Homo sapiens: one gene and its partners. The protein of the gene in region 3 interacts with the protein of the main gene of each other region in a pairwise test. Each region holds a gene or a part of one and is shown on either strand. Other genes may lie near its edges. The genes, in order: GYPC, NSDHL, RHBDD1 and PLEKHB2.

Region 1 (7,117 bases), about 100 Mb from region 3:
CCTCAACCTCCTTCACCAAAACTGCTGCCTCTCCAGCTCCTGAGTTCCTGTGAGTCAAAAGCCCTGAGAAAGGCCAATAAATACATACATAGATACGTACGATGTATGCATGTATATATATATTTACCCAGGGCTAGACTCCTCCATTCCACATTCAAAACCACCTCTGAGGGAGAGAAAAAATGGCCACAGCCACCACTGCCCAAGTCCTTAGGTCAGTTCTCCCCTGGATGTTTTCACCAAGGCCCCCCACCCTGGCTGCTTGAAGGGCTCTGTGATGAGAGCTCACCTGCAATGACGACAATGTCCATTATGGTGGGGGTGGAGGTCTCCATTCTGCCATCCGGCCATCCAGACATCCCTGGATCAGGCTCTGTGAACAGAGGACAAGAATCTGAGGTCAGAGAGGAAGATTCTCCATGCCTAGCAGCACCTTGGCCCAAGCTGCATCCTTTGCTCAGGTGTGAGCAGCTCTGAGAATGGGTCCAAGTGGAAAGGAGCAGTGCGGCGCACCCACTGCTCCTAGCAGGGATGCACAGACCAGGAACCAGGTTCTGCTTGGTCACTGACTGGGATGGAACTGTTTGAACCTGAACCACCAGGTCACTCCAGGCCCATTTGAGTTATCTGCCTAATGCCTGCACTGAGAGTGGTGCTGCACGTGGTAGATGCTCAACAGATATCTGTGCTGTGTATGAAGGCAGGGACTCTTGTTGTGTTTAAGAAAGAATGTTTGTGGAGTGTCTGATGCTCACACCAGGTGTCTCAGTCCATTTTGTGTTGCTATAGCTGAATACTTGGGTAATTTATAAAGAAGAGAGGTTTATTTGGCTCACAGTTCTAGTGGCTGGGAAGTCCAAATTGGGCAGCTGCATCTGGTGAGGGCCTCATACTACTCCCACTCATGGCAAAAAGCAGAAGGGGATCTGACATTCGCAAAGAGACCACAAGGTGATATAGAAAGCAAGAGAGTTTAGAAAGCTGAATTTGCTTTTATAACAACCTGCTCTCCAGTGACTAATCCAGTCTCACGACAGCTAGAACTCCCTCCCTCCCTCAAGGGGGTATTAATGTATGCATGAGGGATCTGCCCCTGTGACTCAAATATCTCCCACTAGGTCCCACCTCCCATCACTGCCACCTTGGGAATCAGATTTCAACATGAGCTTTTGCAGGGTCAAACCACATCCAAACCATAGCACCAGGTGTTGCTTTAACTGCCTTCTATCTACTCTATCATGCAGTCTTCACATCCATCCTATGAGGTGCCTGGTGTTAATGGCCCATCTCACAGGAAGAACACCAAGGTTCAGAGACGTGATGTGCCCTTGATCACACAGCTCATCCGATATCAGGTCAGGACTTGGCCAGTGCTCTTGCCTCTGGAGTGCACTTTCTCTCTTGGAGAAGCCCTTCCCAGGGCTCCTGTCTGAGGAGTCATTCCTGAAGCCCTCCCATAGGTCTTTACATTGACTCTGCTGTGGGAAGGACCACTCTATGACACTATCCAAGTTACTGAGTGTGTTTTTTCACAGCTTAATGACCTGGCCAAAGAGGGTAGGATGTCTAGGACATTGGGGACCGGGATGTTTCCTAGAGCTGCTGCACAGAATGCCTTCTCTCCTCTGGGAGATGATTGTGAAGAAGGATTTATTGGATCACAGAAATATCAGTGTTAACATAGGAAATCCCACGTTCCCATTACAATGGCTCTACATAATAAAACAGAGAAGGATGCTTCATAATAGTCATTTCCACTCAGATAATCACTTTAATTATAGTGCTATGAGGTCATTCTCCCCAGTGCAGCTGCCAGATGCCTCTTTCTTATAAGTAACTGCCTGCTGGAGTCAGGAGTCATAATGGGTGAGGGGAAAACAGACTCCCAGCTAGGGGTCCACAGCAGGACACAGATGGGCCAAGCTAGGGGTGTCTGGGGCCACCAAGGAGCTTGGAGGTGGGGAAGAAGATAATACAAGGCACTGAGGCAGCCCAGGGACCCAGTGAACACTGGCTCAGGATCTGGGTCTCGGGAGCCAGGAACCAGGCAGGGTATAGGATCCAGCATTCACGGTGTTTCTCAGTAGCAAGACCTGAAGCAAGGGCCGTAGCAAGTTCAAGTGGGTGCTAGACTTTATTATATAGAGTGAACAAGTGCAGCCTCCAGTTTAGTATCTAGCACATAGTAGGTACTCAATAAATATTCACTGAATGCATGAGTAAATGCATGCATATATAAATGAATGGATTTAGTGGTGGGGTTCTAGACTTTTCCAATCAACAAGCACCTCAAAGTTCAGAAAGAAAGAATAACACCTTGCTTAAGTAGGCATGGATGGTTATAGAAGCTCAAATACCCAGAACTGCCCTCAGAAATTTTCCAGGTGAAGACAGCATTTATTAGGACAGTTTGTCCAACACAATCAGCGTTAGAAGAGACTGTTATTTCCTCTTCCTTTAAAACAACTAACAATCGCTTACTAGGTGCCAGGTGCAGGTCTCAACATTTAAAGCAATTTAACATGGTCCTTGCAACAGTTGCAAGAACACTGCTTGGAGATTATTCATTCTAAAACCAGGGAAGTCCCAGAAAACAGGGCAGAGCTGGTTGCTGTATGTACACTATACAGGGGGAAAAATGAGGCTATTAACTGTGCTTGGGGCAGGTTGTGTGGTTTGTGTTTTTCAATGGCCCGATGACTGCTCCTCAGCCTACCCTGCTCCCATTCCCTCCTGGCGATTGAGGACTGGGGTGAGTCTGCAGGAGGAGCAGGACTTGGCCACACAAAGGACTGAAGTGGGAGAGGGTAACGCAGAGAATGCCAAGGTGTTGGCTGTGCGAGGGGCAGTCACCCCTCACTTCTGCTGGGACTCCAGAGGGGTGGGGAAGTACAGTGTAAGGCTGCTCAGGAGGGGTCAGATCACTCAGGACCTTGAGAGTGAGGGGGCAGCAGTCTCATGGGGTGGGGGTGTTTTGAGTTTGGGCATTTACTTTGAAGCTGCAGAGCAAGCCTCTGTCTTTTCTTAGAATGCAGGTTTATTTGGAGGCCTTGGGGAGGGACTGCTGAAGAATATGGAAAGTCTGAAACTGCTCCCAAGTCCCACCTTTATAGAACAATTTCCTAAACTTCCTACTGCCTTCAGGGGAACACTTGTATCTGCATAATGTTAATAATATCACCTAGGAAGAATAAAAGCTCAGTGGTGCAATGAGTTGGAGAATGCCAGGTTACACAGAGTCCAACAGGTGTCTTTGATTGCTTGCTTCTGCTGCTTTTTCTTTCTTTTCAAATTGTAGATGTTTCCTGAGTTATTAATAAGCTGCTGAGAAGTGTGGATCTCAAAGAAGGTCGCAGAGCACACAGCACCTCCCAAACTTGGTTGTTCTTCAAACACAGTTTGCAGTCACAGCCATGACCCATGGGGAGCCCGTTGCTCAGGGTTCAAAGCAAGGCAAAGGCAGGCTCAAGTTTCCTTGAGGATGGAGGGTTGGGGGTCATGGACCCAGGGAAGAAAATAATGTGGGATGAGGGAGACGGTGGAGAAGTCTAAGTAGCCTGGTCAGTCTACCCTCATCTCACCTCCACCCTCAACCTCCCTCACCAAAACTGCTGCCTCTCCAGCTCCTGAGTTCCTGTGAGTCAACAGCCCTGAGAAAGGCCAATAAATATAAATACAGATACATATGACATACCTATGTATATTTATTTACCCAGGGGTAGACTCCTCCATTCCACATTCAAAACCACCTCTGAGGGAGAGAAAAAATGGCCACAGCCACCCCTGTCCAAGTCCTTAGGTCAGTTCTCCCCTGGATGTTTTCACCAAGTCCCCCAACCCTGGCTGCTTAAAGGGCTCTGTGATGAGAGCTCATCTGAAGTCACGGCAGTTTCCATTATGGTGAGGCTCTGTGATGAGAACTCACCTGCAATGGTGGTAGTATGCATTGTGGTGGAGGCAGAGGCCATCCCCGGATCAGGCTCTGTGAACAGAGGACAAGAATCTGAGGTCAGAGAGGAAGACTCTCCATGCCTAGCAGCACCTTGGCCCAAGCTGCATCCTTTGCTCAGGTGTGAGCAGCTCTGAGAATGGGTTCAAGTGGACAGAGACAGTGTGGTGCACCCACCGACTCCTAGCAGGGGTGCACAGACCAGGAACCAGGTTCTGCTTGGTCACTGACTGGGATGGAACTGTTTGAACCTGAACCACCAGGTCACTCCAGGCCCATTTAAGTTCTCTGCAGTATGCCTCCACTGAGAGTGGTGCCTGCATGTGGTAGATGCTCAACAGATATCTGTGCTGTGTATGAAGGCAGGGACTCTTGTTGTGTTTAAGAAAGAATGTTTGTGGAGTGTCTGATGCTCACACCAGGTGTCTCAGTCCAATTTGAGTTGCTATAGCTGAATACTTGGGTAATTTGTAAAGAAGAGAGGTTTGTTTGGCTCACAGTTCTAGTGGCTGGGAAGTCCAAATTGGGCAGCTGCATCTGGTGAGGGCCTCATACTGCTCCCACTCATGGCAAAAAGCAGAAGGGGATCTGACATTCGCAAAGAGACCACAAGGTGATATAGAAAGCAAGAGAGTTTAGAAAGCTGAATTTGCTTTTATAACAACCTGCTCTCCAGTGACTAATCCAGTCTCACGACAGCTAGAACTCCCTCCCTCCCTCAAGGGGGTATTAATGTATGCATGAGGGATCTGCCCCTGTGACTCAACTATCCCCCACTAGGTCCCACCTCCCATCACTGCCACCTTGGGAACCAAATTTCAACATGAGCTTTTGCAGGGTCAAACCACATCCAAACCATAGCACCAGGTGTTGCTTTAACTGCCTTCTATCTACTCTATCATGCAGTCTTCACATCCATCCTATGAGGTGCCTGGTGTTATTGGCCCATCTCACAGGAAGAACACCAAGGCTCAGAGACGTGATGTGCCCATGATCACACAGCTCATCCGGTATCAGGTCAGGACTTGGCCAGTGCTCTTGCCTCTGGAGTGCACTTTCTCTCTTGGAGAAGCCCTTCCCAGGGCTCCTGTCTGAGGAGTCATTCCTGAAGCCCTCCCATAGGTCTTTACATTGACTCTGCTGTGGGAAGGACCACTCTATGACATTATCCAAGTTACTGAGTGTGTTTTTTCACAGCTTAATGGCCTGGCCAAAGAGGGTAGGATGTCTAGGACATTGGGGACCTGATGTTTCCTAGAGCTGCTGCACAGAATGCCTTCTTTCCTCTGGGAGATGATTGTGAAGAAGGATTTATTGGATCACAGAAATATCAGCATTAACATAGGAAATCCCGTATTCCCATTACAATGGCTCTACATAATAAAACAGAGAAGGATGCTTCATAATAGTCATTTCCACTCAGATGATCACTTTAATTATAGTGCTATGAGGTCATTCTCCCCAGTGCAGCTGCCAGATGCCTCTTTCTTATAAGTAACTGCCTGCTGGAGTCAGGAGTCATAGTGGGTGAGGGGAAAACAGACTCCCAGCTAGGGGTCCACAGCAGGAAGCAGGTGGGCCAAGCTAGTGGTGTCTGGGGCCACCAAGGAGCTTGGAGGTGGGGAAGAAGATAATACAAGGCACTGAGGCCGCCAAGAGACCCAGTGAACTCTGGGTCTGGAGTCAGCACCTTGGGAACCAGGAACCAGGCAGGGTAGAGGATCCAGCATTCACAGTGCTTCTCAGTAGCAAGACCTGAAGCAGGAGCCATAGCAAGTTCAAGTGGGTGCTAGACTTTATTACAGTGAACAAGTGCAGCCTCCAATTTAGTATCTAGCTCATAGTAGGTACTCAATAAATATTCACTGAATGCATGAGTAAATGCATGCATGTATAAATGAATGGATTTAGTGGTGGAGTTCTAGACTTTTCTAACCACTATGCACCTCAAAGTTCGGAAAGAAAGAATAACATCTTGCTTAAGTAGGCATGGATGGTTATAGAAGCTCAAATACCCAGAACTGCCCTTAGAAATTTTCCAGGTAAAGACCAGCATTTCTTATGACAGTTTGTCCAACACAATCAGGGTTAGAAGGGACTGTTATTTTCCCTTCCTTTAAAACAGTTAATAATTTCATACTAAATGCCAGGTGCTGCTCTCAACATTTAATGTATTTTAACTCAGACCTTGCAACATTTCCATTCGATAGGAGTTATTATTAGCCCCATTTTCCAGATTTGGCAGCTGCGTCCCAGAAAAGTGTTATTTTCCCCGGCTTGTACCTTGAGAGTCAGAAGTCAATCATTTGAAGCCCTGGCAGCCTTGAGTCAGTGTGTTTAGCCTTACAGGGCACTGCAAAGTGTAGAGCCTTGGTAAGCTGGTTTCCAGGTGAGATATTTGGCTTGAACAACTTGGGGTGCATTTCTTGGCTTCTGGTTAGGGACCTTGTACTCAAATCTGTATACTGGGAGACTACACACACTTCCAGCAGGGCAGCCAGGCTGGGAGGGGAGGTAGGACCTGAGAGCTTCGGGGCCTCATTGGGAGACCATTGGGATTGCCAGCTGGGCCTCCCAATGTGGGCTCCCTCCAAGCTCATGCCCTCTGAGGAGCGTGGTGGGCAGGAAAGTTCCCTCAGCTGGAACTACTCTCTCCATGCCCCCCACCCCACCAAGTGTGTGGAGCTGAATTTACACATGTTTCACAATGTGACAGACTCCAGGGGAGTGACATTTCAGCCCAACCAGAGCTGCCCTATATTGATAGATCAGAATCAGCATAGAGAGGAAGCTCAAGGCTGTCTGGGAAGGTGTGGATGCTGTGAGACAGCAATTCTCAAAGCATAGTCTCTGGATACACAGCATCCTCTGGGAGCCTGTTAGAAATAGAAATTCTCAGGCCCCAGCCCAGACCTACTGAAGAAAAACACTAGGACTGGGACCCAGTAATTACTATAGTAGATTCTGATTCATGCTGTAGGCTGGGAAGTGCTGGTGTAAAGAGGGCTTCCAGAAGCGGTGACATCAGGATTAGTCCTTTAAGGGCAAATAGGAGTTTGCTGCACAAAGCCTATAAGCATTCCAGGCAGAGAGCTCAGCATCTAAGGCAGCTCTCCCCACTTCTCAGCTTTCTCCCCAGTGTCTGCTTGCCATCCACGGCTCCAAGGC
Region 2 (7,117 bases), on a different chromosome or scaffold from region 3:
ATCCATGGTCACTAGTGGCTGGTAGCCCATGGCCTTTTTGGCTCTCTCGCAGCTGTAGTAGTGGAATGTGCCAGCCAGTGCGACCCGCATGGGTGTGAAGGTGGGCTGCAGCTGGATGACAGGACTGATCACCATCACCAGCAGGGATAGCAGGAGGGCCAGGTAGTAGGCCACCCAGTAGGGGATGTGGTACTTGGGGGCCTCATAATTGAGGCCTGTCAGGATGCGAGACAGGAATGTCCAGAAAGGGATGGGCTCATCATTGGTGATGTGAAATGCCTGGCGGGAGAACAAGAACAAGAAGTTAGAAACACCACCCCCACCTGCCCAAAGTTGAAGCATCTATTAAGCCCGTGCAGATCGCATTCTCACTGCCTAATTGCTGCAGCTTTCCACGTGGCCTGCCCTCAATTGCACAACTGCTAAGGCATAGAAAGGGCAGACAATGAAAGTTTCATCTATGGGCCAGGATTTTAAATGAAGCATAGATTGCACTTGGAAAGGCACATTTGTTAATTTGATAATTGTTAATCATCATAAAACTCATCTACATATCTTTGGATGCAATGAATTCCTCATATTACATTTCTTGACGGTGTTCTGCTTGTTTTAAATCAAAAGCCACACCCGGGCCAGGCGCGGTGGCTCACGCCTGTCACCCCAGCACTTTGGGACGCAGAGGCGGGCAGATCACCTGAGGTCAGGAGACCAGCCTGGCCAACATGGTGAAACCCCGTCTCTACTAAAAGTACAAAAAATTAGCTGAGCGTGGTGGCATGTGCCTGTAGTCCCAGCTACTCGGGAGGCTCAGGCATGAGAATCGCTTGAACCAGTGAGACGGAGGTTGCAGTGAACCGAGATCACGCCACTGCACTCCAGCCAGGGTGACAGAGTGAGACTGTCTCAAAAAAAAAAAAAGAAAAAAAAAATGCCACACCCACCCTATTCCCAACTTATTTGAAGGTTATCAGTGGGGAAACGGCAGAGGTTCAGGAGAATAAAAGAGGACCAAACAGCAAGGGAGGGAGAGACCTGAGGAATGAGTGGGAGAAAGGGTGAGGAGCAAGCACCCTGCCCAATCTACGTGGGCTCCTGCCACAAGGAGCCATGCCAACAGGTGGGCAGCCAGGTCAGGGGACCATAGATGACCGTGACCTGAATGTCTGTTCAATCCCAGCTCGTCAGCTCTCCAAATTTGGCTGCCCAAGTGATGTGACGCTGCAGTGACACCACATGCTCTATCAGAGGGGCTTGATCTTGGCACAGGGGGTCCTAAGGCAGATCCTCCATGATACAGGATCACAGGAGCAACTTGCCAGCAAATCCAATGGCAAGGAGAAGAAACCCGCAGAAAGGCACCTGTGCAGGGACCGGTGCAGCAGGCCTTACCTTCCCACCCAGTGTCGAGTCTCGGGAGAGCTGCTCTGCCGCCAGGATGTGTCCATGGACCACGTTCTCCACAAAGGTGAAGTCCACCAAGTTCTTCCCATTTCTGCAGGTGCACAAGGGATGATGGAATACGTGCTGGGAGCCCCTGCACGAAGGCCAGGGCCACTCCCAAGTCTTGGCATTTGAGAGACTGTGACCTACAGAATGGCTGCCACCTCACTTGGCAAGGCCGGCCCAGGCACTCATGGATGCCTGTACTGGTTAAAGATGTACACTGGGCCGGGACTCCTGGGTCTTCAGGGTTAGTGGAATCTGAAAGCTGGGGGACCTGCCCACCCATTCCAGCATGGCCAACACTGGTGCTGTCTCTCCTGTCCCGATTTGGGTAGCAGCTTTTCAGCCCCTTCCCAGGAGACACGGGGCCAACGCCTTGCTCTGGTCCTCCGTTTATTGACCAGTCTCCCTGTAATCCTTCAAGGTGACAAGTCAGGGTAGCAGTGAGGCTGAGTGAGAAACAGGAAGGCAAGGCAGAGGGAAAAAGGAAGGAAGAGAGAGAGGAGAAAAGGAGGAAATGAAGGAAGAGAAAGCCTATTTGGGAGAGAGGCACACTGTTGTCCCCTGTGGAGGCCCCTCCACCTGCACTTAACCCGAGGAGAAAAGTAATGCCCCCGCCTGCCTTCCCAGATGCAAGGACAGTCAAGCCCTGGCCTTTGACCCGGGGCCCATTGCTTTCCCTCTGAGTCACGGTTTCTTCAATTTCCAAACAGGGTCACAAATACCTTCCCAGCCTACCTGAGAGGGTACACTGGATTGAACAGTATCCTCCCAAAGCTTCTGTCCACTTGGGCCTTGTGAATGTGACCTTATTTGGAAATAGGGGCTCGGCAGATGCAATTAGTTAAGCTGAGCTCATACTGGGGTAGGGTGGGCTTTAAATCCAGGGAATGATGTCCTTATAAGAGGGAAATTTGGACACAGAAAGCAAGGAACACAGCCATGTGAAAGGGACGCAGAGGCAGGAGTGATGCCTCTCCAAGCACAGAATGCTAAGGATGGCTGGAAGCCAGCAGAAGCTAGGGCAGAGGCCTGGAACAGACGCTCCCTGCGAACCTCCAGAAGACACTAGCCCTGCCAACATCTTAACTGAGGACTTCTGGCCTCCCAAAATGTGACAGAATCCATTTGTTGTTTTAAGCACTTACTTTGTGGCAGGTTGTTATGGCAACTACAAGAAATGAATACAGAGGACAGCGGACAAGGTCACTGCTATCGCCTGAATCTTTGCATCCCCGCAACATTCATATGTTGAAACTTAACCTCCAGTGCAATGGTACTGTGAAGAGGGACCTTTAGGGGGTGATTAGGTCATGGGGGCTCTGCCCTCGGGAATGGGATTAGTGTCCTCATAAAAGAGGCCCAAGGGAGCCTGTTTGCCCCTTCCACCATGTGAGGACATGGTGAAAAGGTGCCACTCATGAGGAACAGGGCCTCAATGGACACCCAGTCTGGGAACGCCTTGATCTGGACTTCCCAGCCTCCAAGCTCTCTGTTGTTTGTTACCCAGTCTTAGGTATTTTGTTACAGCAGCCTGCATGGACCAAGACAGTCACATAAGAAAAGAGCTACAATGCCATGTGGCTCCTGCCAAGTGCTCTCTGAATGCGAGCATGGACCAGGAAGGACTAGGGAAGAGCCGCTGTGGGCTGACTCACCCAATCACGAACTTCATCTTGCCGTTCCTGGCTGCCTCGATGAGGATGGGTACCAACTGCGGGTCCCTTGGGCCGAAAATGCCATGAGGGCGGATGGCTGTGGTTAAGAAATTCTTCTCAGGATCGTTGGCGCCCAGAACTGCCTGGAGGAGAGTGGGAGAAGGGGCACGTCCATTGCAAATTCCTAGGCCCAAGCCAAGAGAGTGCCTCGCTGGGTGAGAAGCACCACTCGTGGGGGACAGACAGATGACACACTCTGCTGGCATGTGGCCACTGAGCAGTGGTCTGCCTTGAGCTGACAACCTACATCAGTGGCTGGTATAATTCTGGGCTACCTCTCTACCCCACCCACCCTCACACCAAAATCTGAAAATGCAGGACAGACAGCTGGGCAAAAACTGGTAAGATCAAATCAGAAGGCCCTGGTTTGCGTTCAAAGGCTAAAATCCACCAACACTGCCAGAAGACATGCCTCGGCAGCAGTTTGTGGAAAACGTCCAAAGGTTCTGGCAAACAAGTTAGCCGTGAGCCTCCAGTGACTTGAACTGCATGTGCCGCCCACGTTTCCACCAGGCCGGGTCTGTTCCAGGCAATTCTGAGTATCACCTCCGAGGGGAGGGCTCTGAGAAACCCAAGTGGGCCCAGAAGAGGGTCAGAGAAGGTGAAGGGTCTGAAGACCATGCCTGGGGAGAAACAGGCCAGCAGCTGGGGGGCAAAGGAGGCCGAGACATGTAAAGTCCTCAGAGCAGTGCCTGGTCCAGAGCCAGTGCTCCTGTTGCCACCGCAAGGAAAGGGTGACTTCTGTGTGACTTCATGGACAAACTAGAACTCAAGAGTCTAAAGCACAGTGAAATGGGTTTCGCCTCAAAAGTAACAAAACTTTCCAAAGGATTTGTTTTATCGTGGGTAAAAGTGGTGATCATAAAGGTACCTACCCTGACGGGGCTGCATGCGAATTACACGAGATGGCCCATGTGAGTTGCTTCAGTGCGTGTCTGTATGCTTGGTAAGTACGGTTCCTGCTGTCATGTCACCTCGGGTTTCTTCTACTCTATGGTAGCAAAGTGCTGGTCTATGTTTTGGCCCCAGTGATCTTAAGCAACTCAACAATGGAAAAGCTGCCTCTCAACAGATTCCCAGAGCTGGCCCTCCTCTTCCCGCCAGGACTCTGGTCCCCACAGCGATGGAGGAAATGACTAAATAAACCCTCAAATGGCTTCCACCAAGGCTCATCTCTACTACTAAAGGGAAGAGAGGTGAAGGAGTCCTAGCTCCCCATCACATTTGGTTTATGATCAGTAGGAAGGTTATAAAGCCAACAGTGGATGTCAACCTCGGCTGAAAGGAGGCTTCCGGTGAGTTACTGCTGGAGTCATCTGCAGGCTTTGCTTATTTCCAGTTGAGAACCCAAAAGTTGATATAAGCGAGACACTGATGGTCTGGGCCAAGGCCATCATTTGAAGCTCCTGAGCCTAGATGGGCTCAGCTCTGGTGGCAATCAGTATCAGGCATATTGGGTTGAGAATACACAGGGTCTCCATGGTGACTGAACTGCCTGCAAGGCGCAGGGAGGCTTTAGTACTCCTTGGGCCAAGTTCGAGCACATGAGTGCTCCAAGGAGCAAGACAGCATAGTCTGGAGCCAGGACTGTGGCTTGCCAAAGTTCAAGCCTCCACCCCTGGTCTGGGTGGCCCTTGTGTCTCCCTGTGGACCAGTTCTGCCAGGACTTTCTGAGCTGAAGCAACAGCAGACAGGCTGGGCATGGTGGCTCACGCCTGTAATCCCAGCACTTTGAGAGGCCAAGGCGGGCAGATCATGAGGTCAGGAGTTCGAGACCATCCGACCAACACGGTGAAACCCCGTCTCTACTAAAAATACAAAAATTAGCCGGGCATGGTGGCACGCGCCTGTAATCCCAGCTACTCAGGAGGCTGAGGCAGGAGAATCGCTTGAACCTGGGAGGTGGAGGTTGCAGTGAGCCGAGATCGTGCCACTGCACTCCAGCCTGGGCAACAGAGTGAGAATCCATCTCAAAAAAGAAAAAAAAAAAAAATACGGCAAACAGCCAGGAGGCAGCTGGCTCTCAGGTAGCCAGGTCAGTGTTCAGCTCCAGTACAGCATGTACCGGCTTTGCGAGAAAACCTCAGTGGGTGTGATACACTGCACACACCTGGGAGGGGTATACTCACAGCTACCCAGCTAAGACGAGCTATCCCAGGCTCAGGAGCACTCCTGGCCTGCAGCTTAGGATGGCCTCAGGGTGACAATCCCCATCTGCAGCTAGCAGTTGTCAGGGGCCCCACAGCCCCAGCAGCCTGAAGGCTTGGTAGCGACCGTGGCTGAATCCAACCATACTAAAATCAGGTGCCCTTTGATGAAGCTGTTTTGCCAAGTGGAAAAGTACTTTTTCCTTAAAATAAAGCAAGATCCTTCCGTTGTTTGTTTTTCTAAGTAAGGGAGGGGGTGAGAGTGCCACTAGGAAGGTGCCTCCAGCCTGATTCCTGTCTGCACGCTTGCAACTGCTGTAAATTCCCATAGCAGGCGAGGAAGCTCCCATGGCATTGAGGGTGGGCTGTAAGCTCTGTAGACAGACTGCCTGGGGTCAGCCACCTCCTAGCTGCACAGTTTTAGAAAGGTTCTGAGCCTCTCTGTGCATCTGTGCACCACAGTCTTCATCTATAATCTGGTGATGATGCGATAATTGTGACCTTTAAACAAGGAAAATACTCCTGGAAAACACTCAGAACAGTGTCTGGCCACATAAAGCTGTTCTCATAGTAACTTTTTTTTTTTTGGGAGACAGCGTCTCTCTCTCTCTATCCCCCAGGCTGGAGTGCAATGGCACAATCTCGGCTCACTGCAACCTCCGCCTCCCAGGTTCAAGCAATTCTCATACCTCAGCCTCCCAAGTGGCTAGGATTACAGGCGCCTGCCACCATGCTGGGCTAATTTTTGTATTTTTAGTAGAGATGGGGTTTCGCCATGTTGGCCAGGCTGGTCTCGAACTCCTGACCTCAGGTGATCCACCCACCTCGGCCTCCCAAAGTGCTGGGATTATAAGCGTGAGCCACCGTGCCCGGCCTCTCACAGTATTTTTAAATTTAATTTCACCCACAAATTTTACATCTCAAATCAGGTACGTAGGCCTCAGAATACAAACTTCATAAGTTCATAAACATTTTTCTTAGGATTCTAAACCCTTCAGTCTGCTCACTCAACCAGTTCCAAGGTACATACCCTCTCCTGTAAGATCTTAGTCTCTGTGTAGTAGTCAATGGGTTTCATGGCATAGGGAAGGTCTTCAGTTCCATTCTTGATATCGACGCCCTCAAAGATGACACTGGCACTGCTGGTTAAAATGAGTTTCTGACAGAGGAAGGTCAGAAAAAATAAAAGTCACAAATTATCACAATTCAAACAGTGCATGATCCTGTATGAAAGAGAATCAGGGGCATCCCTTTGTTGCCCTCGCATTCGAGGCACTGAAGAAATTATTTGCTGCAATGCCTTTGCTTTTCATGCCTTCTTAAAATAATCCAAAGATCACCATCTTTTGCAGCTATGTGGATTCCAGACACACTATGTATTACATTCTAACCAAGAATCAAGAGATCTTGGTTTCAAAACAAGGGATAACACATTTTTTCTATCCCATCACACCTGAGAGATAGAATAGACTTGCATTCATGGTATCTCACTATGACAGCGATTCTCTGTTGTAAGTGAAGGGCAGCCCGCAAACTTCTAGGAAGATGTCTGAAAAAGATCACTGGCTATTCTGATAGTGACCTGGCCATGTGAACACACATAGGAATACACACACCACACGACCTCTTAAGAAATGCTATTCTAAAGGAAGATATTCTCTTATGAGGGTCCCCAGCGTCCAGCCTGCTGGTTAAGAGAAGCTCATCCAACACTGAACACCATTAGCATGAATCATATCGTTCCCATTCTTATTCAACATTGTATGAGAAGCTCTAGCCAGAGTGGTAGGGTAAGATAAACACGAATTT
Region 3 (7,906 bases):
TTGTTATCCCTTATTAAAAAATGTAATGTAAAACTTTTCACTTTGCTATTAAGAATTCGTGTTTTAAAAAAATATTAGCAATTTCAGGGCTAACAGCATTTTCTCATCCTTTGATGCATACCTTCAACGAGGTCTCATTTCCTGTAACAGTGTCCCCTTCTCTAGCTGACTGTCCCCATTAACTAACAGAAGATACTTTATTACTCATCCCCTGACCTTTGGATGTTTACCTTGCTGTAAACATCCAAAACAATTTCTACAAGTTGCTCTGTTACAGTGATAAAACTGAAGATGGTGTTTTTTCACGTTAAAGTTTCAACTTTTTTCAAGTGTTTGTTTTTTCTCATTCACAATAATATGAAAGCTTTGACTCCATTTCAGCATTTTATGGTTAAAAAGAAAAGCAGTGCAGTTAGGTAATAAAATTACCTCATTTATAAAAATATTATAAAATGAATGGCATAAAGTTAGGTTTGAGACAACAAATACCTTTTTTCCCTTTGTCCGACACACAACATTTACTGAGCCTCTGTGCCTAAAACAAGGTGGACGTGTTTTATGCGTTATTTCATTTAATTCAATGGCCTGAAGTAGCACATCCTATGACTCCTACTTTACAGAAATTCAAGTGGGGAGGATGTTAATTTGTCTAATGTACACAATCACTAAGTAGCAGAGGCAAGATTCAGAGCAGGGCTTGTCTGACCTAAAACCACAGATAGCGATCTGCCTCTCCGATGAGGAGAACAAAAAAAAATATTTAATGCCTTCGAAAAATAAACATTTCATGATGGGGCAGTGCCAATTTGGTGGCAGAGCTAACGAAATTATTTCCAGAATAATCCATTCAAAGTGACTTATGTTTATCTGAAAACTCTCTCAATATCCAGGAGCCATGGTATAGCCTTGGGAGCAGCGTGCTCTCATCAAAACGACATGTGTAGGCCACGGTTTGGCACTGACCTTCTCAACATTGCAGTGAATGTAGCCTTTAGAGCAGCTGCTTTAAATCCTGAATATTTCTTTCTCCCCCTACAATGGACCCCTGAAAGAGATAAAGTTGTAAGAAAATACTGCATCTAAAAAACACAGCAGGTTGAGGGCACTCCTGTGATCCTTCCTGAAAATGGAGGTATCTAGAGTAGACATGAGATCTTTGCTACCGTGGAGTTGTACGACATATGGGAAACAAAGATAAGGACAGAAACATATTCAGCCTTGGCTTTCGCTTGCAAGTCACTATGTTACAATAATTCTCAACTCTAAAACTAGTGCTTACCTCTGGTCTTTACCAAATTCTGGGTCAAAGAAGGTATAACTAAACTGAAGACGAGGCAGGTGGATTACCTGAGGTCAGGAGTTCGGGACCAGCTTGGCAAACGTGGTGAAACCGTCTCTACTAAAAATACAAAAATTAGCTGGGCGTGGTGGCAGACGCCTGTAATCCCAGCTACCTGGGAAGCTGAGGCAGGAGAATCGTTTGAACCCTGGAGGCAGCGGTTACAGTGATCCAAGATTGCACCATTGCACTCCAGCCTGGGTGGCAGAAAGAGACTGTCTCCAAACAAAGCTGAAGAGATCAGAAGGCCAAAGAATTAAAAACTACTCTTCAACATAAATACTAATGCTATTCTTAAAAATCCTACAACCACAATAGCATTAGTATGCACTGCTTTAACTTTTAACTGAATATCCTGCATCCAACAACCTTGACTACACAGAATTGAGAATCCCGAGGTAAACAAAATACCCTCTAAGCAGCAGTCCCAATATCCATGCGCTACAGCTCATATCTACCCCGCTGAAGAATCCTTCCAGCACAAACTATGTACTTATTTTATGCAGTTCTAATAAGTTACTTAATAACATCTTTGAGGGTTTTCTATGTGTTTTGTGTTAAACATTTTTCTTGCATCTTCATATTCCAGCCCTGTGAGGTAACATGTCCAAGTTTTTCCATCTAGGAATTACTTCAATTCAAATTCCATTATATGTGATTCCACAATGGGTGTTATCACTACGCCATTAATTCTCAAACTTTAGCGTCCAGGTGCATTGGTATCAACTGGAAGGCTTGTTAAAATATATTTCTGATTCAGTAAGTTTGGGATAAGACCCCAAAATGTGCATTTCCAAGAAGTTCCCAAGTGATGCTGATCCTAGCGTCCTGGGATTATTTAGAAACCAATGCACTTCTATTCTTCTTTGAAAGAATACTTGCTTTCCACAGCGACGGCAGGCCTGCAGCAAACCAGAAGCCTTTAAAGTTTATTAGAACTACCTCAAAAAGACACACAACTGTGAGAAATTAGATAAAGCCTTCTAATAAGCAATTTCAAAGAGAAAAAAGAAAAGCCTGGGAGTCACTGAGTGTACTGCAGAGACCCAAACACCTCGATAATTGAATCATAACTAGGCAGGCACTCATTCATTTTGACAGTAACGCTGAGTCTTCAAAAGAGTTTATGCTCAGTTTAGAAAAACAAATAAGGCTGTGATCCGTTTCTTGTAAACGTTTATCCAAAGGTTTTTAGGGGTTGGACAGAAAGGGTTTACTTTGGCGGATTTTTTGTCCTCTAATAAAAGTTATTACTGCGGTGAGGCTTAGACTTGTTCTGAGAAACTGAAAGCTGTCCCGAGAGCACCTGAAACTGCATGCTCTGTTGCTGATGCAACGTCACTTCAAACTTCCTGCTTTCAAAAGGAACCCTTTAAACTCGCTCAGCGCCAACCCCTTCCTCCGAGTGTGGGCACGTCGTTCCCGTGCGGTCCGGCGGAGATGCGGCAACTTCGACAAGACCCCAGGTGGAGTTACCCCAGGAAACGCCCTCCCCGCTCTCGGACTTGCCCCGGACGGGGAGGCTGTGCCTCCAGCCCCGCCATGCCTCCCTCGCCCTAGCCCCCCGGGAGGCGCCGACCTCCGCCCAGCAGCCCCAGCCCGGCCGCCAGCTCCCGCAGCCCGGGGAAACGGCGAGAGATGCCGCTCACAACCAACGACAGCAGCCGGACCAAACAGACGCGGAAACTCACGCTCTCTACGACCCGCCTGCGTCCCCACGTCTTCGCGCGCACGTGCGTCATCACGCACGTTCCCGATCCGGGGCGCCCCGGGTTCCTGGGGCCGGGTGCGGGAGGGGAGGGCCTTAAAGCGGACGGCTCGGCCGCGGCGCATGCTTAGTTGTGCGCGCCCGCGCTCTGCTGTCTGCAGACCGCGTGCGCCGGCAGTGGCTCTAAGGGGGCCGCGAGGGCACAGCGGGGCAGGACCGCGGCAGAGCGCAGTAAGGAGAGTGTGGACCCTCGCCCTGTCCTCTAAGCTCCATGTGAAATGTGGATAATATTCCTTACTGCCATAAATAGCCACTGGCCGCTGACTACGCGTAAGGCAAACAAGCGACCTGCGTTCAAGGGACCCGAAGACTAGGGGAGAAGCAGCGAGCGGGTCGCGGCCGCCTACCCAACGGACGCCTCTGCCCAGGTTCTCTGCCGGGAAGCTTCGTCCTTCCGGGCCCCAGCGCAGCCGGAGGCTGGGGAGCTGCTGCCTGGAAGGGTCAGATACCGCCTGTTAGGCGGAGGGTGGGAAAGACACTCTCCTGCTTCAGGAGCTATCGCAGACAACCGGAGGGCGGCTTATCGCAGAGTCCCAGAGCCAGCCAGCAAGGCAAGGTCGCGGGTGCACCTTTCACTCCCAGAAGCTTGGGTCTGGGACTGCACCACGCAACGTTTGCCCATTTTGAGGGCTTTAGGTGTTTCATATTTCAGTTAATAGAATTTCGATTAATACATAATTTGATACCATTTTAATTGTTTGCTACTCGGGAGCAAGTTTTATGTTTAGCTGTAGGAGTTAGGCTAAGTTAAATGTTGCAATGCTATATATATTTAATAGGATATGAAAAAACTATCTTACAGCCGGGCGCGGTAACTCACGCCTGTAATCCCCGCACTTTGGGAGGTCGAGGCAGGAGGATCGCTTGAGCTCAGGAGTTTGAGACCAGCCTGGACAACATAGTGAGACCTTGTCTCTATTTAAAAAACAACAACAGGCCTGGCGCGGTGGCCCACGCCTGTAATCCCAGCACTTTGGGAGGCTAAGGCGGGCGGATCACCGGAGGTCAGGAATTCAAAACCAGCCTGGCCAACATGGCGAAACCCTGTCTCTACTAAAAATACAAAAATTAGCCAGGCATGGTTGCGGGCGCCTGTAATCCCGGCTACTCGGGAGGCTGAGGCAGGGGAATCCTTGAACCCGGGAGGCAGAGGTTGCAGTGAGATCGCGTCCATGCACTCCAGCCTGGGCGACAGAGCATGACTCTATCTCAAAAAAAAAAAATCTTACTATTTGGTATGGAATTTTCTGATAGCTAGGGTAAAGATGCTCTTTTTCCAAGAAGGAATCCGAGTATCCGAATACAGGTGGTTTAGTGTTACTCTTTGTTTATTGGAAGTTGTAGCAGCTGTGTTTAGATAGTCTGCTAAAACAAAAACTGCCTAAACCAGAAGAGTTTATCTTTTGCCATTGTGTATTAAAACTCTTCATAGAAATATTTATTTTGGAGTTTGAAATTTAAGTGAAAATGTGGCTCATGCATAGGTGTGGGTGTACATATGACTTTCAAGTGACAAAGAAGATTCTTAGCAAATTGTACGTGTTCATTAAGACTCATAAGTTACCTCTTTCCTAGAAAAACAATATACTCCTCCAAAAGCTCAACTGACAATGAGAAACTGCATTTCTGGACATGAAAAGTCAAATGAATGCGGGGAAAAGTAAATTGCCTATAGAGGTATTTTCTGTATTTCCCTAGAGGGGGAAATGTGTAATTTCTCAAAAGGAAGAAGTCCTCATTTATCCTTCTGAACCACAATCATATGAATCCATTCAATTAATATTAATCTTATCTTCTATTCTCCATCACTCTCTACATCTTTCTATAATTGCATCATTTTCTTGTCCGTATAATACATCAAATGCAGAGGTGATTTTAAGGGAGCCACAAATCAAGAAGTCTCAATTCAATAATTTCGTTAAAATGTAAGAAATATATACGGATTAAGAATATTCTTAGGTAATTATGTTCTGTTTCAAATATCAGTGAAAATTTTCATAGACATTTAAGGGGTAAAAGACATTTAACAGATAGAAAAAAATATCTACCTTTTAAAAAATGACCTTCTCTTTTGTCCTACGTGATTTGTTGAGCAGACTGGGTTTTTTAAAAGTTTCTGTTGAAATGAGCATGTTGTAACATGCTCATATCCCATTTCAATTGACAAATATCACTTGGATAATAATTGTATATCTTAAATATGAACATATGAAGCAATCAGCAGCAGCATCCTTTCACTGAGCAAGGCTTAAAAATACCAAAGAATCAGTGCCAGAAGAAATTCTTTAACTTAAAATATACGTAATCACTACATTACCATATAAAACAATGATTTCTAAATGCTGGAAAGTATATATCTTAATCATGAGACGAGGCAGCACTATGCACATTGTGCATAATATGTGAGACATTGAATGGTATAAAATAAATTTTAACTTTTATCTAAGGTTTACAGGAAAAGCAGCAATACCTATGATTAAGCCACCCGACTTAAATGAGTGTTTTTAAGATGTGGTGCTTGCACATAAGCGGAGGAGTGGTGGTAACAACCCTTGTACAGTTCACAAATCCAGGACTGGCAGGAAGGTAGACAAGTGTCATTCTCAGATTTCAGAACCCAGCCTGAAAGTGAGAGGACGTCAGGCAACAATACCATGCAACGACAGCGTGCAACAAATACACAACTGGATTATCTTTTTAAGGGAGAAGCTTGTTTGGGTTTCTAATTGCTTTTAATGAACCAAGTATTGATTACTGTTTTACCCAAAACTGTACCAAAATATGTGTAAAACTGATAAGATAATTTATAGCTTTCTAGTTATGGAAAAGCTTGCAAATTAAATAATTCAAATCTCAATTTAAGAACTGTAAAAATGAGAAATTGGTTCATGTACCATAGTGATAATAATACCAACAATACTTAACAGTAGACTATGCAGACACTAACCATAAGAGATTTGTAGTGGCTATACTAATATCAGATGAAACAGACTTTAAGAAAGAAATTTCTTTTTCTTTTTTCTTTTTTTTGAAGTGCAATGGCACAATCTTGGCTCACTGCAACCTCTGCCTCCCGGGTTCAAGCAATTCTCCTGCCTCAGCTTCCCAAGTAGCTGGGATTACAGGTGCCCGCCACCATGCCTGGCTAATTTTTTGTATTTTTTTAGTAGAGATGGGGTTTCACCATGTCAGCCAGGCTGATCTCAAACTCCTGACCTGATGTGATCCACCTGTCTCGGCCTCCCAAATGGGATTACAGGCCAGCGCGTCTGGCTGACAAGAAATATTTTTAGAGACAGAAATTCCATACTGATAAGAGGGTCAATACATTGAGAAGATATAACAGTTATAAATGTATATGCACCCAGTAACAGAGCCCTAAATTCATGAAGCAAAAATGATTGAATTGAACAGAGAAATATACAAACAACAGTAGTTTGATATTTCAGTATCCTACTCACAATAATGTGTAGAACAACCAGGCAGAAAATCACTAAGTATATAGAAGGCTTGAACAAGACTCTCAACCTAACCAACATGTACAGACCACTGTACTTAATGACAGCTGAATTTATGTTCTTTTTAAAAAGTATACTCTCCAGGATAGCCTTATGTTAGACCATAAATAAGTCTCAGTAAATTTAAAAGAATTGGGATCATACAAAGTACATTCTCCAGTTACAGTGGAATTAAATTAGGGATTGACAATAGAAAGAAATTTGGAAAATCCCCAGATGTTTGGAAATTAGATTACTCATGGGCCAAGGAAGAAGTACTAAAGGAAATTAGAAAGTATTTTGAAATGAATGAAAGTGAAAACATATTGAAGTCATGCACTGCAGCTAAAACAGTGATCAAAAGGGTATTTAGTCCTTTAAACACCAAGAAAAAGAGTCTCAAATCTACACTTCCACCTTGAAAACTAGAAAAAGAGGAGGAACGTAAACCTTTAGCAAAGGGAGGAAATAATGATCATATTGCAAATCAATAAAATAAGTAACAAAAATAGAGAAAATGAAAATCAAAAGTTTGTTTTTTAGAAAAAAAAAAAAACCAGTAAAATTAATGAGCCAACATTAAACTGGCCAAAAAATTAAAAAGACCAAAATTAGGAATCAAAACAGGTACATCACTACCAACCCAAATTAAAAGGATTGTAAGAGACTGTAAATAACGTTGTGCCAATAAATTAGACAATGCAGATGAATTGGACAAATTCCTAGACAGACACAAATTGCCAAAACTGGCTCAATAGAAAATCCAAAAAGACTTTATTTTCTATGGTGGTTGTAAAAAAAAAAAAAAGTATTATAAACTAGGTGGCTTAAGACAACAGAAATTTATTATCTCATGTTCTAGAGACATGAAGCTCGATCAAAGTGTTGGCAGGGCTCTGCTCCCTCTGAAACCTGGAAGAGAGAATTCTTGTCTCTTTCCCACTGCTGGTGTTTTCAGCAATCCTTGGCCTTTCTTGGTGCTCCTTGGTTTTACAACTGCAGCACTTCAGTCTCTGCCTGCATCTCCACATGTGCTGTTCCCTCACGTGCCTGTCTCCTAGAGGCTGAAGTGCCCAGCCTACTCCAGTGTGACCTCATCTTAATGAATTACATCTGCAATGACCCTCTTTTGAAATAACGTATTCTAAGGTACTGGGGGTTAGGGCTTCAACACATCTTTTTGGATGACACAGTTCAACCCATAACAGACATGTAACAAGTACGGAAATTTAATACTTTCCACAAAGAAAATCTTCCCACAAAGAGAAGCCCAGGTCTAGATGGATTCACTGATGTCAATCC
Region 4 (7,117 bases), about 96 Mb from region 3:
CTGCACTCCAGCATGGGCAACAGAGTGAGACTCCGTCTCTAAATAAATAAATAAATAAATAAATAAATAAATAAAACAAAAAAGTCATATATCCAAAGATGCTGGAGAAGTTATTGGACACACACTGCCAGAGGGATCTGGTTGGGAAAAATAGTGTCCGTTTTCTCACAGCCATCCCAAGAGTGTGACTGCACGGGCCACTGCTGTTTGTGGAAATCAAATTCTCATATGCACACGGCACAGGGAACAACAAGGCGTTTTAACATCAGATGTGGAGACCTACTACCTGCACGCTCCTGAGTAAATTATTTAACTTCTGAGCCTCGGTCCCTCCAGTGGAACTTGGATAATACCTCCCTTACAGAGTCACTAAGAATTCAGTGAGTTGTCTCTAATGTGACAATATACTAGCATTTGGTAGGTCCTCAATAAATGGCATTCTTATGATCCAGGACAGCAGAAAAAGCTGAGAGTATGTTACTACAAAGTAATTTTTTAAAGACAACAGAAGTCACAATGAAACATGCTTTAAGGTTAATGCTTTAATGTATTGACATTTTCACTTACAAATGTACAATTTGCGTATGTAGGAAAAAATCAGTTCTCTAGACACAACAGAATACTACTAGAGACGGGAAAGCAATCACAAAAAGATCAACTCTGGGGAGAAAGTGGAACTGCATTCCATGCCTTGTATCTACATACACTAGGGAAGGAAAAAGAAATATTACACAGGATCAAAACTTGTGGAAAATACACTTGGGTCATTTTGTCTCAACTGCAGGACCTTCTTATGATCCAGATGGCTACCTTAAGTCCTGGATAGCCTAAAATGGGCAAAGTCTGGCCTTGTTCACAAATGATGATCCAAAACATTAACCACAGTTCTCCTTCTCTTTAGTATCCAAGACCCTGAAGTTGACTCAAGGAATGAAAAGAACAATCAGATCAGCATGTATATAATATCATTGGCCAACTTCTTCAAGGTATGGATTATTTAAAAGTACACATGGAAGTAAAATGCTTACTCAAACCTGAATAAGAAGTTTCTTGTAACTCAAGCACTTCTTGACTCACACTAAGTGTAGCACTGTAAACAAAAGACATCGTTGAGAAACTGAGGCTATCAAAACATTGGCATCTATGGGAGTTGTGGCCAAGGAAATAAAATACCTGAGCAACCTTATACCCAGTATGCATTTCATACCAGGATCAAGTCACTAATGACAGCCAAGTTCCAGGCTTATCTATGGCTGCCTAATGAGACTGGCCCCACTAGGATGGGGACTGGGGAGGGGACACACATGAGTGCCCAAGCTTCAGTCTACACCTCCCCCCTTCAGCCAGAAGCAGCCAGGGGAGCACAGGGACATCTGCTTCAAGAGCATTTTGGCAGCAAAAATCAATACTCTGTGGTTCCTGGAATTCCCACCCAGTAATTCCAAGTTCAAAATTACCACCAGTGCAACATGAAAAACTGTTAATAGTTTTTAAGTAAAGTGTACATACAGCTTTAATAACGATTATAATCTGAAGAAAGCCATTCTTCTTATACAGGATGGAAAATCCTCAAAGCAACATTTTAAACCATGGACACTAGAGTTGTCATACATCTATTCAGAGATGAGAGATAAACAGACATCCTTCCATGTGGAAACAGACACTCCCATGTCAACAAGTCCCCTAGGATCAGAGAGAAAAGCAGACCCGTGGTCATCACTAGGTGTCTCTGGTGTCTCGCTAAAGATGGAGTCCTATGTAGGTTGGCCTAAGTTGGCCTCAGAGGGAGGTGGCTGAGCAGCAAAGCAAGACAGCATGTGTGTAACCAGCCAGGCAAAATAACAAGTCTGTGCTACCTGGAGTGTATTTTCAGGAAAACAGGACCATATGGAGTGTGGGGCAGGGACATTCGCTGTGCTAAACTGCCACTGTAAAAGCACACTGTTGAAAGCATGCAGGACAGAAAACTGCAATAATTCAGAGCTTGAAAACAAGAAATAACAGAAATATGAATATTTCAAATACACACTTCATATACTGAAAATAAGAGCATTTGAAGAAAGGCTGGAATGGGTTTTCCAAAGACTCACACATTTTGGGGTTCCAAATTCAATGTTCTAAGCTTCTCTATCACAAAGAGATCAAGAACAAAAGCAAAGCTGGGGGTCCTGGCCAGGCTGAGTGGTACCTTGAGCCGGTCCCTGTGTCCTGAGGGTCCCTGGGCCCCATATCCCATCCATAACCCAAGTCTGCTCAGCTACAGTCTGCCCTGGTGCTCAGTGAACAGCCACAGAGTCCCACTTCTGCACAGGATGGGCCTTCAGAGTGATGAGAGAGCATCTCCCGCACAGTGCAAACCCCCAAAGGCCAGAAATGGGAACGCTCTAACTAAGGCTCTCCTTCCACTCCCTCACTGTTCCTTTAATATTACTCTCTCAGCAAGTAGAAAAATAGGCTATAAGGAGGCTTAGGCAGACACACACTCAAACAGCCTCTTGGAATAAAGCAAATCTGCCTCCACATACTTGTTTGTATATTGTTCTGGCTTCTCCAGGATTTTTTTTTTTTTTTTGAGACAGAGTCTCACTCTGTCACCCAGGCTGAAGTGCAGTGGCACTATCTTGGCTCACTGCAAGCTCCGCCTCCTGGGTTCACACTATTCTCCTGCCTCAGCCTCCCGAGTAGCTGGGACCACAGGCGCCTGCCACCACGCCCAGCTAATTTTTTGTATTTTTAGTAGAGATGGGGTTTCACCGTGTTAGCCAGGATGGTCTCGATCTCCTGACCTCGTGATCCGCCCGCCTCGGTCTCTCAAAGTGCTGGGATTACAGGCGTGAGCCACCGCGCCCAGCCAGCTTCTCCAAGTTTTAAAGGATTAAAGCCCTCAAACTCTCAGGCTTAAATCAATTCCTAATGTGGGATATGTTCTCCAAGTATGCCTACCAAAGCCATACAAGAATAAAGTGAGCAGCAGCAGCAGCTAGGGTCAGGCAGATTTCTGAAGCATGATTGTTCAAAGGCGGGCTGTGCCCCATCATCCTGAGCCATCGGCCTTGCCAGGGGCCTGTGGAGCCCCAGAGGGCAGGACGGGGGCTCTCACACCATAGCCTCGGGAAGTACCTGGGAGCTTACCAACCCACAACTCCTAAAGTAACATGCAACCAGTTCTGGTCTGTGGTTTGAAAAAGTTAAACGCAAAGAAGCTGTAGCTTTTCTTGCCACAATCACTCAATAGGCATACAACACTATATTACTGGCATAACATGAAAATAAATTAACCCTTAAGCACTACACCTAACTCTAAAAAGAAAATGCCTTTCAAAACAGGTATGCTCAAATAAGGTATTCTGAGAGTTGCACAAGAACAGTCTTGGAATGAGCCAGTGCCCCCGGAGAGTCAACATTTGAACAAAATAGCACAGTTCAAACCCTTCTCTGTGGTACTTATGTGGATTAGTACAATTATGACATCACTACTTTCAAAGGAATGATTAAAACTATTATTAAAAACTTTTGTCACAAACAGAAATGCCCTGCAAATCATATTATTGCACACAGGGTTATCAGAAGCTATGCACATCAAGACCTTGAGGCCCCTAGAAGACCCAAAATAGAGACCCTAAGGCCATGCCCGTGGCTGCTCCTGCCAGCATGCCCAGTGCCAGGTCGCTGTCGTTGTCTCGATAGCGCTCTCGAATGATGACTTGGTTAGCAGGCTGCTGTCCATAAAGTCCTAAAAGAGAAGGAAAATAGCAGATTTCTGAGCAGCGGTTTGTGAAGTTTAACATCACGCAAAGTACCAGTTCTCCTTTCACAAAAGGGATCTGCTGTCTCCTGTCACACTGGCGACCCAGCCCTCCTCCACAACAGGCACATCATGTGGCCGACATCCCTGAAACCGCACACTGGGAGGAAACCAAGATCCTCAGCTCACTAAGGGCCAAAGTCCCTAATCTGCAAAAAGCAGAACCCTAATGAAGCTTTCAGATTCTAGCCTCTGATTTCTACTTCAGCCCTCGACACCATGCTTATTGGGTGGCAGACAAATGGGGAACATGGGAGACACACAGTGCCCAACAAAAGCCCAAAAAGGAAATGCTCACTTAAAGCAAATGAGCTTCTTAGTATGCACGCAAACCAATTTTTAAATTAAGCCTTAAATCTGCACATATAACTTTTTTTTTTTTTTGAGAAGGAGTCTTGCTCTGTCCCCAGGCTGGAGTGCAGTGGCATGATCTCAGCTCACTGCAACTTCCACCGCCCAGGTTCAAGCTATTCTCCCACCTCAGTTTCCTGAGTAACTGGGACTATAGGCGCCCACCACCACGCCTGGCTAATTTTTTGTATTTTTAGTAGAGACGGGGTTTCACCGTGTTAGCCAGGATGGTCTCGATCTCCTGACCTCGTAATCCACCCGCGTCGGCCTCCCAAAGTGCTGAGATTACAGGCATGAGCCACCACGCCCGGCCCGGCCTACTCTTTTTTACTGCATGTCTTTATAGAGAAAAAATAAATATTTATGTTAGAGGTGAAAACTTCAAAAAAACAAACCACAGACAAATTTAGTATTTAATTTGCAAGATTAAAATTTACAACTGGAAATATACTGTTTGCTCTCTTCCATGCTTCACAGCTATAATGCCTAGTAGCTAAGTAGCTTTCAAACTGCTCAGGTATTAATAGCGTTAACTTTCCTCCTTGATCCTCTATTCCTTTAATGGTTCAAAGGCTGGCTGGCCAGGCTTGATGGCTCACACCTGTAATGCCAGCACTTTGGGAGGCTGAGGCAGGTGGATCACTTGAGGCCGGAAGTTTTAGACCAGCCTGGCCAACACAGTGAAACCCTGTCTCTTAAAAAATTACCAAAAAAAAATTAGCCAGGGGTAGTGGCGCATGCCTGTAATCCCATACTGAGGCATGAAAATTGCTTGAACCTGGGAGGCGGGGGCTGCAGTGAGTTGAGATCCTGTCACTGCAATCCAGTCTGGGCAACAGAGTGCAACTCTGTCTCAAACACACAAAAAAAGAAAAGAAAAAAAACTAGTCACTAGTGATGTGCACATGTGGATGAAGAGCAGAAGTGAAACCCGCAGTGGTAACAAAGGTGAACATTTCCAGCCACTTACAGCACTACATACATTGGAATGCTCTTACTCAACTGAGTGCACTTTTATCCCTATTTTGCAGATGGGCAAACTGAGGCACACAGCAGTTAAGGACAGTAAGGGCACACAAACCCAGGCACTCTGGCTACAGTATGCATTTATACCCACTAATGCCTCAAATACAACAGAGGATGATGAATGACAAAACTCAAAAGGCACAGAGTAGTACAATGAAACCATCGTAAATCTAAGGGCTGATCTGGTACAGGTAACAGTACTGGAAGCAAGTGATTATTTTTGCAATGTTTAAATTTCAAAACTAGGGAATTACGGCATTTACTTTCACAGCCCTGACATTTTAAAATGCTCAGTAATGTTAACTCCAACTAGCCAAATGTAACACAATAGAACTTGTGAGCTGACCTAATGAAAAGGTCCCATGGAAAATCTACATTCTGATGCCCCTGCAAGTCATGCTGAGGTCCCCTGGCTGCAGGACCAGGCCACTCTCTTGTGGCTCCTGCTGAGCTCTGCTCCTGCATTGAGCTCAGTCCTTGCCAGAGTCAGCTGTGGATGCTTCCAGGTCACACTTATTATAATTGCCTAATTTAACTAATATTACATAAATGGTCAAAATGTGAATGAGAAAAAGGCAGACACAGTTTCTATGGCAACTAAGATACTACAGGAAAAACTAAATAAAGGAAGGTTACTTTTACAAATTACCATCAAATCAGGGAATTAAGAAAACTATAAAAGATGGGAGGATGGGAGGACTATAGTCCCCAAATCTAGAAGTCTGCTCTTGGACTTACCCCTGGAAACTGCAGTGCAATGACGTGTCATGAGGATGGTCTCTACAAGACAGAAATAGAAGACTCCAACCAAAGGAGCCAACTCAAAGCAAACACCTCAACCCCACATTATAGGAGAGCCGAACGAACACCCACTAGCGGGTTAAATCACAGCACAATGTTTACAATACGTCTACAGTACTCTGTACTTTCTCAATTGGCTGACCAACCACTGGTCCCAATCACACTGAAGAGAGAGCCTTAACCAGCTCTGTGCATGACTAGGAGGGTTCTTGTGGACTAGCTCTAGGCAGTGAGACCCTGGCAGACAGGATGGCATGGAGGTGGCAAAGCACCCATCTGGTTGTCAACACAAGCTGCTGTGTATCGACCACAAACCCATTTGACCCTTCCACAGCAAGCAAGTCTGGGGGCTGCCTGGTCACCACTCTGAGGCAGGCTGGCCATAATGCCTACTGACTCAGCCCCTTATGTGGGCGGCAAGCATTCCGAGTACTGCCTGTGAGAGTGCTACTTCTACTCTACTGACGAGAGCCAAGGGCAAGGATGGACTCATTTCCAGAAGTGCCCTAAACAACCACGTCTGCAATATCTGTGCTCTCTATACAGTAAGAAACAGCGGCAACAGCCCTATTCTGTGGGCTGGAAGCTGAGAAAGAGGCTGGCTCTCATGTGGCAAGGCTAGGGCTTAAAACTCTCCATCCCATGGGATCCCAACAGAAAAATGTGCAAAGGAAAATTATTCATAAAAGGTGATATAAACTAAAGCAACTCGATGATTCCACTTGAGACCTACTGAAGCTATCAAAACTTTTAGAGCACAACAGGCCATCTTTATGGGATCACAGATAAACCACTGCATCAGTAACTGCTAGTGGCATTATAAGTTGGTAAACCATTCTGGGATCAACTTGGCAAAATGCTATCCAGATTTAATGTAATATTAACAGATGAAATGATTAAAAATCTGGGATGTCCCTTAAACTAATCCAGAGGTAGAGAAAGGAGGCTGAGGTAGAGATAAAAGATTAGACATGATATGGTTAACTGCTGAAGCCAGTGATGGACATATGATAGTTCATTATACCATCATCCCTATTTTTTATGTTTGAAAACGTTTACATTTTTAAATCATATCCCAAAAAACCGTCAAAAATGTCTATGCCTTCTGACATGTTAACAGAGATGCTCCTCAAC

Evidence for each region.
Region 1: the proteins of RHBDD1 (region 3) and GYPC interact in binary tests that used the Homo sapiens proteins (3 or more experiments, as listed by UniProt).
Region 2: the proteins of RHBDD1 (region 3) and NSDHL interact in binary tests that used the Homo sapiens proteins (3 or more experiments, as listed by UniProt).
Region 4: the proteins of RHBDD1 (region 3) and PLEKHB2 interact in binary tests that used the Homo sapiens proteins (3 or more experiments, as listed by UniProt).

Annotation. Positions count from the first base shown.
Region 1 is NC_000002.12:126,687,120-126,694,236, reverse strand, and holds part of GYPC (glycophorin-C), read right to left. Parts: intron 3,983-7,117; coding exon 3,926-3,982; intron 374-3,925; coding exon 290-373; intron 1-289. UniProt on the Homo sapiens protein: This protein is a minor sialoglycoprotein in human erythrocyte membranes. The blood group Gerbich antigens and receptors for Plasmodium falciparum merozoites are most likely located within the extracellular domain.
Region 2 is NC_000023.11:152,861,946-152,869,062, reverse strand, and holds part of NSDHL (sterol-4-alpha-carboxylate 3-dehydrogenase, decarboxylating), read right to left. Parts: intron 6,468-7,117; coding exon 6,339-6,467; intron 3,245-6,338; coding exon 3,102-3,244; intron 1,493-3,101; coding exon 1,390-1,492; intron 280-1,389; coding exon 1-279. UniProt on the Homo sapiens protein: Catalyzes the NAD(P)(+)-dependent oxidative decarboxylation of the C4 methyl groups of 4-alpha-carboxysterols in post-squalene cholesterol biosynthesis. Also plays a role in the regulation of the endocytic trafficking of EGFR.
Region 3 is NC_000002.12:226,831,212-226,839,117, reverse strand, and holds the start of RHBDD1 (rhomboid-related protein 4), read right to left. Parts: upstream 3,065-7,906; 5' UTR 3,031-3,064; exon of another isoform or gene 1,046-3,030; 5' UTR 964-1,045; intron 1-963. UniProt on the Homo sapiens protein: Intramembrane-cleaving serine protease that cleaves single transmembrane or multi-pass membrane proteins in the hydrophobic plane of the membrane, luminal loops and juxtamembrane regions.
Region 4 is NC_000002.12:131,143,253-131,150,369, reverse strand, and holds the end of PLEKHB2 (pleckstrin homology domain-containing family B member 2), read right to left. Parts: intron 5,963-7,117; coding exon of another isoform or gene 5,921-5,962; intron 3,734-5,920; coding exon 3,597-3,733; 3' UTR 525-3,596; downstream 1-524. UniProt on the Homo sapiens protein: Involved in retrograde transport of recycling endosomes.